Homo sapiens: one gene and its partner. The protein of the gene in region 2 binds, or shares a complex with, the protein of the main gene of each other region. Each region holds a gene or a part of one and is shown on either strand. Other genes may lie near its edges. A codon is read from its position in the direction of its gene.

Evidence for each region.
Region 1: the proteins of CDK6 (region 2) and CDKN2A are in contact, whole or in part, in a crystal structure (PDB 1BI7), measured with the Homo sapiens proteins. Residues at the interface, in NP_001138778.1 of Homo sapiens: Glu14, Cys15, Val16, Ala17, Glu18, Ile19, Phe28, Lys29, Arg31, Leu33, Asn35, Gly36, Gly37, Arg38, Phe39, Arg44, His100, Asp102, Gln103, Asp104, Thr106, Thr107, Asp110, Lys111, Gln149, Thr154, Ser155, Leu166, Ala167, Arg168; in NP_000068.1 of Homo sapiens: Thr18 (codon at 3,111), Ala21 (codon at 3,102), Arg22 (codon at 3,099), Gly23 (codon at 3,096), Arg24 (codon at 3,093), Glu27 (codon at 3,084), Asn42 (codon at 3,039), Tyr44 (codon at 3,033), Arg46 (codon at 3,027), Gln50 (codon at 3,015), Val51, Met52, Met53, Met54, Gly55, Ser56, Arg58, Asp74, Ala76, Thr77, Thr79, Asp84, Arg87, Glu88, Gly89, Phe90, Asp92, Asp108, Trp110, His123.

The regions. Positions count from the first base shown.
Region 1 is NC_000009.12:21,971,666-21,978,861, forward strand, and holds the start of CDKN2A (cyclin-dependent kinase inhibitor 2A), read right to left. Parts: upstream 3,193-7,196; 5' UTR 3,163-3,192; coding exon 3,013-3,162; coding exon of another isoform or gene 2,812-3,012; exon of another isoform or gene 2,739-2,811; intron 1-2,738. UniProt on the Homo sapiens protein: Acts as a negative regulator of the proliferation of normal cells by interacting strongly with CDK4 and CDK6. This inhibits their ability to interact with cyclins D and to phosphorylate the retinoblastoma protein.
Region 2 is NC_000007.14:92,604,338-92,609,684, reverse strand, and holds the end of CDK6 (cyclin-dependent kinase 6), read left to right. Parts: 3' UTR 1-4,764; downstream 4,765-5,347. UniProt on the Homo sapiens protein: Serine/threonine-protein kinase involved in the control of the cell cycle and differentiation; promotes G1/S transition. Phosphorylates pRB/RB1 and NPM1.

The DNA of each region.
Region 1 (7,196 bases), on a different chromosome or scaffold from region 2:
AATTCTCACAAAACTTTTAAGTTACACTTAGCTTCTGGGAATGTTGAACTTCAATTTCTTTTTCATTATATTAGTTTTAAAATTATATATTGGGATAGTACAGTTGTATATATTTATGTGGTACAATATGAAGTTATGATCTTTGAACACAATGGGGAATTATTAAGTCAAGCTAAGTAACCTATCCATCATCTCAAATATTTGACATTTTTGTCAAATGAGAGCATTTGGGATTTACTATTTAGCTATATTCATCATGCTATGAAACACATCTCAAAAAAAACAATCAAACTTATTCCTCCCATCTTAACTGAGGCTTTATATCTTGATTACCATCTCCCCATTCCTCCCACCCCCCAGCTCTAGTAACCACCATTCTACTCTTTACTGCTAAGAATGTAATTGTTTTATATTTCACAGATAAGTGAGAACATGTGATATTTGTCTTTCTGTGTTTGGCTTATTTCATTTAGCATAATGCTCTCCAATTCCAAAACTTCAATTTCTTCAAGTATAAAATAAGAAGGCTAGTTTAATTAACCCTAAAATTCCTTCCTGTGGTAGGCTGAATAATGCCCCCCCACCCCCAATGTCTATGTCCTAATCCTCAAAAACTTTTAATACATTAACTTATGTGGCAAAAGAGGCTTTGCAGATGTGATTTAATTAATGGTCTTGAGGGAGATTATCCAGAATTTTCAGGGTGGGCCCAACATAACCCCAAGTGTTTTTATTAGAGGGTCACAGTCAGAGAGAAGATACAAGAATGGAAGCACAGGCCACAGAGAAAATACAGAGACCATGAGCCAAGGAATTTGATGGTCACTAGAAGCTGGAAAAGACAAGGAAACAGATTGCCCCTTAGAGTTTCCAAAAGGAATGAAACCTTGTGGACCCATTTTTGACTTCTGATCTCTAGAACTGTAAAATAATAATTTTGTGTTTGTTTTAGCTAACACATTTGTGATAATTTGTAACAGCAGCAGTAGGAAACTAAAACACTTCCCAGGTTTATGATTTGAGAGTTCATTAAACAAGAGATGGTCACCTCTTTGGTTCCTAAATCATCTTGGAAACAAAGCCATTTCCAGAGAGGAATTTTAAAATACTGTCTGCAGTCATAGCAACCTTAAAATTTGAGTGCTGCATGGTGGAAGTAGACAATTTATTTTAGGATAACTGTTATTTGTTATATTAGTTTGAGGATGGTGGTGTTAAAGAGGAGTTACTTATTTTTAGGTACATTTCATACTAAACACAAATTGCATAATTTGCCTAAATCAAGGAATTATACTAAATTATATTATGGTTATTAAATCCTGTCCTGAGAAAGTGAAACTGACTCAGTTTTCAAAGAGACAAAGAGAAAGTATAAGCAAACCAAATTGCAGCTACAAAAAGAAAGACAAAATGTTGCAGTATATTTATTGTTTTGTGTATTCAATGAAGTCCTTCGTCTTGGTCATAAAACTAGCCTTAAAGGTTTTTCTTATATTTCATAGTATGAAAAATCTAAAAAGTAACCCATATGTAAATATTTAAATCATGATAGAAATCCAAAGCAAAAAGAAAATGAATCAATTGAATTAAAATGTGTAGGATGCTTAAACCCATTTGATAATATATCCATTTGATAATATACTAATATGAATTTAGTACTTTAAAATGTTATATAAATAAATGTTCCTATATTAAACACCAATGTAGTTAGGATTCTAAGCCAACATCATTTCCCCTTTTCTACATGTTCTTCTCCCGTCTCCATTAAAAATTGTCAAAACTATCCACTTTTCTTTTTCCTTTTTGTTTTTAAACAAATAAGGTCTCTTCTAAGATATTGTAGGACTACAAAGCCAAACTCCCGGGTTCAAGCTGTTGGCAAAATTTTAGAGATGCTAAGTTACCCATGTATTAATTACTTTTAAATCCTCCCCTAACTCCCTCACAAAACAGGAGTAGGGAGAGGAGAAACACCTCTGTTCAAAAATGAGGAATTGAAAACTCTTATCACAAATAAACTATATCAAGTAAGCTAAAGATAGTAAAAGAGCAAAAATGTTAGCAGATATTCCCAAAATGGTAACTACATATTACCTCTGGAATGATCACATGAATGTGGCTCATTATTTCCTAAGTTCCTACAGCAAACATATATTTATTTGCCCTACTCAGTTAAAAATAAACACAATATGTAGTTGCTTCTGAATAATTTTTCTCTCTCTCTTTCTCTCTTTCTTTCTTTCGACAAAGTCTCACTCTGTCACCCAGGCTGGAGTGAAGTGGCTCCATCTCGCTGTTCACTACAACCTCAGCCTCCCGGGTTCAAGCGATTCTCCTGCCTCAACCTCCCGAGTAGCTGGGATTACAGGCGCCTGCCACCACCCCCGGCTACTTTTTGTATTTTTAGTAGAGGCGAGGTTTCACCTGTTGGCCAGGCTGGTCTCGAACTCCCGACCTCAGGTGATTCCCCCCGCCTTGATCTCCCAAAGTGAAGGGATTACAAGGCGTGAGGCACCGCGCCCGGCCGCTTCTGAATAATTTCGATCAAAATTTATATTCGATATTTATTCCAACATACACCACAGATTTCCACTGATAATCCCTCCTAGTAAGAAAGATAAGCTCCATCCAGGTATCTGTGAATTGGAGGCTAAGTAGTCCCAGCACATCTTACATTTCTTTAAGACTCCCTTTTTATCCCAAACGTTCGTAAATTTTGTATCTGATAAAGAGCATACTTCCATCTAATACAAATATGTTCCCCCCTTCAGATCTTCTCAGCATTCGAGAGATCTGTACGCGCGTGGCTCCTCATTCCTCTTCCTTGGCTTCCCAAGCCCCCAGGGCGTCGCCAGGAGGAGGTCTGTGATTACAAACCCCTTCTGAAAACTCCCCAGGAAGCCTCCCCTTTTTCCGGAGAATCGAAGCGCTACCTGATTCCAATTCCCCTGCAAACTTCGTCCTCCAGAGTCGCCCGCCATCCCCTGCTCCCGCTGCAGACCCTCTACCCACCTGGATCGGCCTCCGACCGTAACTATTCGGTGCGTTGGGCAGCGCCCCCGCCTCCAGCAGCGCCCGCACCTCCTCTACCCGACCCCGGGCCGCGGCCGTGGCCAGCCAGTCAGCCGAAGGCTCCATGCTGCTCCCCGCCGCCGGCTCCATGCTGCTCCCCGCCGCCCGCTGCCTGCTCTCCCCCTCTCCGCAGCCGCCGAGCGCACGCGGTCCGCCCCACCCTCTGGTGACCAGCCAGCCCCTCCTCTTTCTTCCTCCGGTGCTGGCGGAAGAGCCCCCTCCGACCCTGTCCCTCAAATCCTCTGGAGGGACCGCGGTATCTTTCCAGGCAAGGGGACGCCGTGAGCGAGTGCTCGGAGGAGGTGCTATTAACTCCGAGCACTTAGCGAATGTGGCACCCCTGAAGTCGCCCCAGGTTGGGTCTCCCCCGGGGGCACCAGCCGGAAGCAGCCCTCGCCAGAGCCAGCGTTGGCAAGGAAGGAGGACTGGGCTCCTCCCCACCTGCCCCCCACACCGCCCTCCGGCCTCCCTGCTCCCAGCCGCGCTCCCCCGCCTGCCAGCAAAGGCGTGTTTGAGTGCGTTCACTCTGTTAAAAAGAAATCCGCCCCCGCCCCGTTTCCTTCCTCCGCGATACAACCTTCCTAACTGCCAAATTGAATCGGGGTGTTTGGTGTCATAGGGAAAGTATGGCTTCTTCTTTTAATCATAAGAAAAAGCAAAACTATTCTTTCCTAGTTGTGAGAGCCCCACCGAGAATCGAAATCACCTGTACGACTAGAAAGTGTCCCCCTACCCCCTCAACCCTTGATTTTCAGGAGCGCGGGGTTCACTAAGTCAGAAACCCTAGTTCAAAGGATTCCTTTTGGAGAGTCGGACTGCTCTCTCCTTCCCCTCCCCTTCCCCTCCTGCGTGTAAAACGGCTGTCTGGGGCAAGGGTTTCTCAGACGTGTACATTGCCTGGTATAAGAGCAGACTCTGAAAAGATGAGGTTTATTTAATACGGACGGGGGAGAATTCTGCCTGTAGGCAGATAGGAAAATGGGGAGGGAGTCATTGGAAGGACGGACTCCATTCTCAAAGTCATAATTCCTAGACCAGAAAAAGTGCTCAGTGTTCTAGAAGCAGAGTTGCACAGTGATCCAAAGACCAGCTTCAAATACTGTCCTGTCTCCTTCACACTTCTCACATTTCTCTTTCCTACTGAAAATACCTTGCATTTTTCGTAATTATAAAGGGGGAAGGGAATATGAGTGCCCCCTGCTTTATAGGGGTTGTTGTGAGTTTAAATGATGTATTAATACATATAAGCCTTAAGAACAGTGCCACACATCCTAAGCTAATACCTGTTAGCTCTTGAATTATCCGCTTTGAGGACTGGCTTGCAATCTTGTTTTGAGGCATAGAAAGAAAATGCTTTGGAGCAGGACGCGGTGGCTCACACCTGTAATCCCAGCACTTTGGGAAGCCGAGGCGGGCAGATCACCTGAGGTCAGGAGTTCGAGGCCAGCTTGGCCAAAATGGTGACACCCCGTCTCTACTAAAAATACAAAAATTAGCTGGCCATGGTGGCGCACGTGTGTAATTCCAGCTACTCAGGAGGCTGAGGCAGGAGAATCGCTTGAACCCGGGAGGCAGAGGTTGCAGTAAGCCGAGATCGCGCCACCACCCTCCAGCCTGGGTGACAGAATGAGACTCCGACTCAAAAAAAAAAAAAAAAATGCTTTGGATAGAATTATCACTATTACATAAAAGGAAAGTCCGGATGCGGTGGCTCACGTCTATAATCCCAGCATTCTGGGAGGCCGAGACAGGCGGATCACCTGAGGCCAGGAGTTCGAGACAAGCCTGACCAACATGGCGAAACCCTGTCTCTACTAAAAAATACAAAATTAGCGGGGCTTGGTGGCGCATGCCTGTAATCCCAGCTACTCGGAGGCTGATGTAGGAGAATCGCTTGAACCCAGGAGAAGGCGGAGGTTGCAGTGAGCCGAGATCGCGCCATTGCACTCCAGCCTGGGAGACAAGAGCGAAACTTGGTCTCAAGAAAAAAAGAAAGAAAGAAAGAAAGAAAGACCAAGAAGAACTTACTCCCTGAAAAGATTATGGGCACCCTCCACCACCCTCACTTACAAAGAAAAGTTAAACAGCACTAAAGAGTATAACAAGCGCAAGGAGGTAAAAGTTCTAATTTTTCCTGTGACTACTACTTTTTAAGCTTATCAAAAACATGTACTACGTTTTAAAAAATGGATTGCTCAGACTTTGCTGATGCCTTAAGCACATGCTTAATCTGCCTACTGGATAATCCAGCTCTGTTTAAAAGTTATATTTCAATCCCTGGTTGACTTAAACCTTGTAGACCCAGTATATCTTGTACTTTTAGTGTCTGCTTGATTTTAAAACATGTAGTTTTTAAAATGAAGCCAATGAAAACAATTTGGGATGTCAAGTATGTTATTAAAATCTACAATGCATTACTGTACCATTTATATTTTCCTCGGGGTACCTCTCAATTAGCTGTGTAGCAATGATAGGGAAAATTCAAACTATCGATAAATAAAATTATTTTAGTTTAGTTTAAGATATTTTATGATGGAGGAGGAAGAAAGTGGTTGCCAGGATGGGAGGGAGGGAACACATTTCCATCACTAATACAATGGTTCTTTCTTTTTGTTTGTTTGTTTTGTGTGTTTTTTTGAGATGGAGTTTCGCTCTGTTGCCCAGGCTGGAGTGAAATGGCACCGCACGATCTCTCTCGGTTCACTGCAACCTCCGCCTCCCGGGTTCGAGCAATTCTCCTGCCTCAGCCTCCCGAGTAGCTGGGATTACAGGCACATGCTGCCATACCCAGCTAATTTTTGTATTATTAGTAGAGACGGGGTTTCACTATGTTGGCTAGGCTTGTCTCGAACTCCTGACCTCAGGTGATCCACCCACCTTAGCCTCCCAAAGTGCTGGGATTACAGGCATGAGCCATCGTGCCCGGCCTACAGTGGTTCTTAATGGGGGTGGGAGAGTGGGAAGAGTAGGCTCCTTCAAGAGTCTGTTGAAATAAATACCTTCTTCTCAAAAAAGAAAGTAGGTAATGATTTTTTTTAAAAAAGATGTGTTCACTTGCACATGTATTTCTAGATAAAACTTTCAGTGAATTCAGGGATTTCTCTGAAACTCTACCATGGATTCCTACATCAAGAACTCTTTCAGCTCTTGTGAAAAATATATATAGCTATTGGTGAAGAAGATGGGAGATGCAACCATATAAAAACAACATTTGGATGCATTATAAACAGGTGTAAAAGTTGACTGCTTTGGAAATACCAAGAACAAGTTTTAGATATGTATATCTCATATCTTGCAGTAGAGCTCTGGAAGGATTATGGCATCCTTGGGTGGGGCCATTTTGCTCTAGAAATTGAAGTCCATTATCCATTATAAATCTTATGTAGGGGGGAGGGGGGAGGGATAGCATTAGGAGATATACCTAATGCTAAATGATGAGTTGATGGGTGCAGCACACCAACATGGCACATGTATACATATGTAACAAACCTGCACATTGTGCACATGTACTCTAAAACTTAAAGTATAAATAATAATAAAATTAAAAAAATATTATGTAAATAATTAATAATAGTGGGAAAACTTTCCTAGTTTTTCTGTTAAAGAGCCCATTATACTCCCAGTTTACTCATACATATCGACCTGAGGTGCAAAATCCTAGAAGAATGAAAATATAAAGTCCTGGATCTCTGTGCTCCTTATGCCAGTCTCAGATTTCCTATGTGCAAAATGGGATTATAATATATTTCATGTGGCCATAAAATATGATAATGTATGTCCAAAAGCTTTTAATGTAAAAATTTACTACATTTACTAAATTTACTAAAGTTTGTTGGTTATTGTTATTATTATTCTCACACTTACTTTTCCTCTTTCCTGAGAATGCCATTCTTTTTTTAGATTTGCACTGCCTTTGCAGTTTTGAAAATTCTACACGTGAAATTTAAACCTGTCTTAATTCTGATCAGTCTTATAACAAAAAAAGACTACCACCTGTTCATTCATTCAACAAGCTCAGAAACTAAGGGCAGACATGGGGTGGGGGCAGAGGGGAGTAGGTCAAACATAGTATCTCTACAGTCAGACTGCCAGGGTTCAAACCTCAACTGTTCCACTTATTGGTT
Region 2 (5,347 bases):
AACACACATACCCTCTCTGCTGCTTTCAAATTCCCTAGCATGGTGGCCTTTCAACATTGATTAAATTTTAAAATCCTAATTTAAAGATCAGGTGAGCAAAATGAGTAGCACATCAGTAATTCAGTAGACAAAACTTTTGTCTGAAAAATTGCTGTATTGAAACAGAGCCCTAAAATACCAAAAGACCAGGTAATTTTAACATTTGTGGAATCACAAATGTAAATTCATAAGAAGCTCTAATTAAAAAAAAAAAGTCTGAAGTATATGAGCATAACAACTTAGGAGTGTGTCTACATACTTAACTTTTGAAGTTTTTTGGCAACTTTATATACTTTTTTTAAATTTACAAGTCTACTTAAAGACTTCTTATACCCCAAATGATTAAGTTAATTTTAGAGGTCACCTTTCTCACAGCAGTGTCACTTGAAATTTAGTAGGGAAGGATATTGCAGTATTTTTCAGTTTCCTTAGCACAGCACCACAGAAAGCAGCTTATTCCTTTTGAGTGGCAGACACTCGACGGTGCCTGCCCAACTTTCCTCCTGAGTGGCAAGCAGATGAGTCTCAGTAATTCATACTGAACCAAAATGCCACATACACTAGGGGCAGTCAGAAACTGGCTGAGAAATCCCCCGCCTCATTCGCCCCTCTGCTCCCAGGAACTAGAGTCCAGTTAAAGCCCCTATGCGAAAGGCCGAATTCCACCCCAGGGTTTGTTATAACAGTGGCCAGTCTGAACCCCATTTGCTCGTGCTCAAAACTTGATTCCCACTTGAAAGCCTTCCGGGCGCGCTGCCTCGTTGCCCCGCCCCTTTGGCAGGAGAGAGGCAGTGGGCGAGGCCGGGCTGGGGCCCCGCCTCCCACTCACCTGCCGGTGCCTGAAATTATGTGCGGCCCCGCGGGCTGCTTTCCGAGGTCAGAGTGCCCTGCTGCTGTCTCAGAGGCATCTGTTCTGCAAATCTTAGGAAGAAAAATGTCCCTAGTAGCAAACGGGTGTCTTCTGTGCATAAATAAGTACAACACAATTCTCCGAAAGTTCGGGTAAAAAGAGATGCGGTAGCAGCTGCCCTGTGTGAAGCTGTCTACCCCGCATCTCTCAGGCGCTAAGCTCAGTTTTTGTTTTTGTTTTTGTTTTTTTAAAGAAAAGATGTATAATTGCAGGAATTTTTTTTTATTTTTTTATTTTCCATCATTCTATATATGTGATGGTGAAAGATATGCCTGGAAAAGTTTTGTTTTGAAAAGTTTATTTTCTGCTTCGTCTTCAGTTGGCAAAAGCTCTCAATTCTTTAGCTTCCAGTTTCTTTTCTCTCTTTTTCTTTGTTAGGTAATTAAAGGTATGTAAACAAATTATCTCATGTAGCAGGGGATTTTCATGTTGAGAGGAATCTTCCGTGTGAGTTGTTTGGTCACACAAATAACCCTTTCTCAATTTTAGGAGTTTGGATTGTCAAATGTAGGTTTTTCTCAAAGGGGGCATATAACTACATATTGACTGCCAAGAACTATGACTGTAGCACTAATCAGCACACATAGAGCCACACAATTATTTAATTTCTAACTCTCTGTGGTCCCTAGAAAAATTCCGTTGATGTGCTTAGGTTAAAGTTCTGAAGATACCCGTTGTACCCTTACTTGAAAGTTTCTAATCTTAAGTTTTATGAAATGCAATAATATGTATCAGCTAGCAATATTTCTGTGATCACCAACAACTCTCAGTTTGATCTTAAAGTCTGAATAATAAAACAAATCCCAGCAGTAATACATTTCTTAAACCTCACAGTGCATGATATATCTTTTCATTCTGATCCTGTGTTTGCAAAAATATACACATGTATATCATAGTTCCTCACTTTTTATTCATTTGTTTTCCTATTACCTGTAGTAAATATATTAGTTAGTACATGGAATTTATAGCATCAGCTACCCCCAGGAACAGCACCTGACAGGCGGGGGATTTTTTTTCAAGTTGTTCTACATTTGCATAAATTATTTCTATTATTATTCATGTATGTTATTTATTTCTGAATCACACTAGTCCTGTGAAAGTACAACTGAAGGCAGAAAGTGTTAGGATTTTGCATCTAATGTTCATTATCATGGTATTGATGGACCTAAGAAAATAAAAATTAGACTAAGCCCCCAAATAAGCTGCATGCATTTGTAACATGATTAGTAGATTTGAATATATAGATGTAGTATTTTGGGTATCTAGGTGTTTTATCATTATGTAAAGGAATTAAAGTAAAGGACTTTGTAGTTGTTTTTATTAAATATGCATATAGTAGAGTGCAAAAATATAGCAAAAATAAAAACTAAAGGTAGAAAAGCATTTTAGATATGCCTTAATTTAGAAACTGTGCCAGGTGGCCCTCGGAATAGATGCCAGGCAGAGACCAGTGCCTGGGTGGTGCCTCCTCTTGTCTGCCCTCATGAAGAAGCTTCCCTCACGTGATGTAGTGCCCTCGTAGGTGTCATGTGGAGTAGTGGGAACAGGCAGTACTGTTGAGAGGAGAGCAGTGTGAGAGTTTTTCTGTAGAAGCAGAACTGTCAGCTTGTGCCTTGAGGCTTCCAGAACGTGTCAGATGGAGAAGTCCAAGTTTCCATGCTTCAGGCAACTTAGCTGTGTACAGAAGCAATCCAGTGTGGTAATAAAAAGCAAGGATTGCCTGTATAATTTATTATAAAATAAAAGGGATTTTAACAACCAACAATTCCCAACACCTCAAAAGCTTGTTGCATTTTTTGGTATTTGAGGTTTTTATCTGAAGGTTAAAGGGCAAGTGTTTGGTATAGAAGAGCAGTATGTGTTAAGAAAAGAAAAATATTGGTTCACGTAGAGTGCAAATTAGAACTAGAAAGTTTTATACGATTATCATTTTGAGATGTGTTAAAGTAGGTTTTCACTGTAAAATGTATTAGTGTTTCTGCATTGCCATAGGGCCTGGTTAAAACTTTCTCTTAGGTTTCAGGAAGACTGTCACATACAGTAAGCTTTTTTCCTTCTGACTTATAATAGAAAATGTTTTGAAAGTAAAAAAAAAAAATCTAATTTGGAAATTTGACTTGTTAGTTTCTGTGTTTGAAATCATGGTTCTAGAAATGTAGAAATTGTGTATATCAGATACTCATCTAGGCTGTGTGAACCAGCCCAAGATGACCAACATCCCCACACCTCTACATCTCTGTCCCCTGTATCTCTTCCTTTCTACCACTAAAGTGTTCCCTGCTACCATCCTGGCTTGTCCACATGGTGCTCTCCATCTTCCTCCACATCATGGACCACAGGTGTGCCTGTCTAGGCCTGGCCACCACTCCCAACTTGACCTAGCCACATTCATCTAGAGATGGTTCCTGATGCTGGGCACAGACTGTGCTCATGGCACCCATTAGAAATGCCTCTAGCATCTTTGTATGCATCTTGATTTTTAAACCAAGTCATTGTACAGAGCATTCAGTTTTGGCTGTGGTACCAAGAGAAAAACTAATCAAGAATATAAACCACATTCCAGGCTGCTGTTTTCTCTCCATCTACAGGCCACACTTTTACTGTATTTCTTCATACTTGAAATTCATTCTGCTATTTTCATATCAGGGTACAGACTTATAAGGGTGCATGTTCCTTAAAGGTGCATAATTATTCTTATTCCGTTTGCTTATATTGCTACAGAATGCTCTGTTTTGGTGCTTTGAGTTCTGCAGACCCAAGAAGCAGTGTGGAAATTCACTGCCTGGGACACAGTCTTATAAGAATGTTGGCAGGTGACTTTGTATCAGATGTTGCTTCTCTTTTCTCTGTACACAGATTGAGAGTTACCACAGTGGCCTGTCGGGTCCACCCTGTGGGTGCAGCACAGCTCTCTGAAAGCAAGAACCTTCCTACCTATTCTAACGTTTTTGCCCTCTAAGAAAAATGGCCTCAGGTATGGTATAGACATAGCAAGAGGGGAAGGGCTGTCTCACTCTAGCAACCATCCCTCCATTACACACAGAAAGCCCTCTTGAAGCAAAAGAAGAAGAAAGAAAGAAAGCTTATCTCTAAGGCTACTGTCTTCAGAATGCTCTGAGCTGAATGCTCTTGCTCCTTTCCCAAGAGGCAGATGAAAATATAGCCAGTTTATCTATACCCTTCCTATCTGAGGAGGAGAATAGAAAAGTAGGGTAAATATGTAACGTAAAATATGTCATTCAAGGACCACCAAAACTTTAAGTACCCTATCATTAAAAATCTGGTTTTAAAAGTAGCTCAAGTAAGGGATGCTTTGTGACCCAGGGTTTCTGAAGTCAGATAGCCATTCTTACCTGCCCCTTACTCTGACTTATTGGGAAAGGGAGAACTGCAGTGGTGTTTCTGTTGCAGTGGCAAAGGTAACATGTCAGAAAATTCAGAGGGTTGCATACCAATAATCCTTTGGAAACTGGATGTCTTACTGGGTGCTAGAATGAAAATGTAGGTATTTATTGTCAGATGATGAAGTTCATTGTTTTTTTCAAAATTGGTGTTGAAATATCACTGTCCAATGTGTTCACTTATGTGAAAGCTAAATTGAATGAGGCAAAAAGAGCAAATAGTTTGTATATTTGTAATACCTTTTGTATTTCTTACAATAAAAATATTGGTAGCAAATAAAAATAATAAAAACAATAACTTTAAACTGCTTTCTGGAGATGAATTACTCTCCTGGCTATTTTCTTTTTTACTTTAATGTAAAATGAGTATAACTGTAGTGAGTAAAATTCATTAAATTCCAAGTTTTAGCAGAATGTGTTTTTTTTCTTTCTTTTTTTTTTTTTTTTTTTTTTTTTGGTGCTTCTTATTTGCAACCTGGCCATGTGGTAGAAAGAATGTGTTTTAAAGTTTTACTTTAAGAGATTCCTTTTCAGGCTTCTAGTGTTTAAAAAGTAAATAACAGCTAAGTGAGCTTAGAACTCATTCAACAATTGGCCGGGCACGGTGGCTCATGCCTTTAATCCCAGTACTTTGGGAGGCCGAGGCAGGCAGATCACCAGAGGTCAGGAGTTCAAGACCAGGCTGGCCAACGTGGTGAAACCCTGTGTCTACTAAAAATACATGAAAACTAGCCGGGCATGGTGGCACGCGCCTGTAATCCCAGCTACTCAGGAGACTGAGGCAGGAGAATCACTTGAACCTGGGAAGTGGAGGTTGCAGTGACCTAAGATGGCGCCACTGCACTCCTGCCTAAGCAACAGAGCAAGACTCCATCTCAAAAAAAAAAAAGAACTCATTCAACAATCATGCGTTGCTTAATGACTGAGATACAGTCTGAGAGATGCATTGTTAGGGGATTTCATCGTTGTGAGAACATCATAGAGTGTACTTACACAA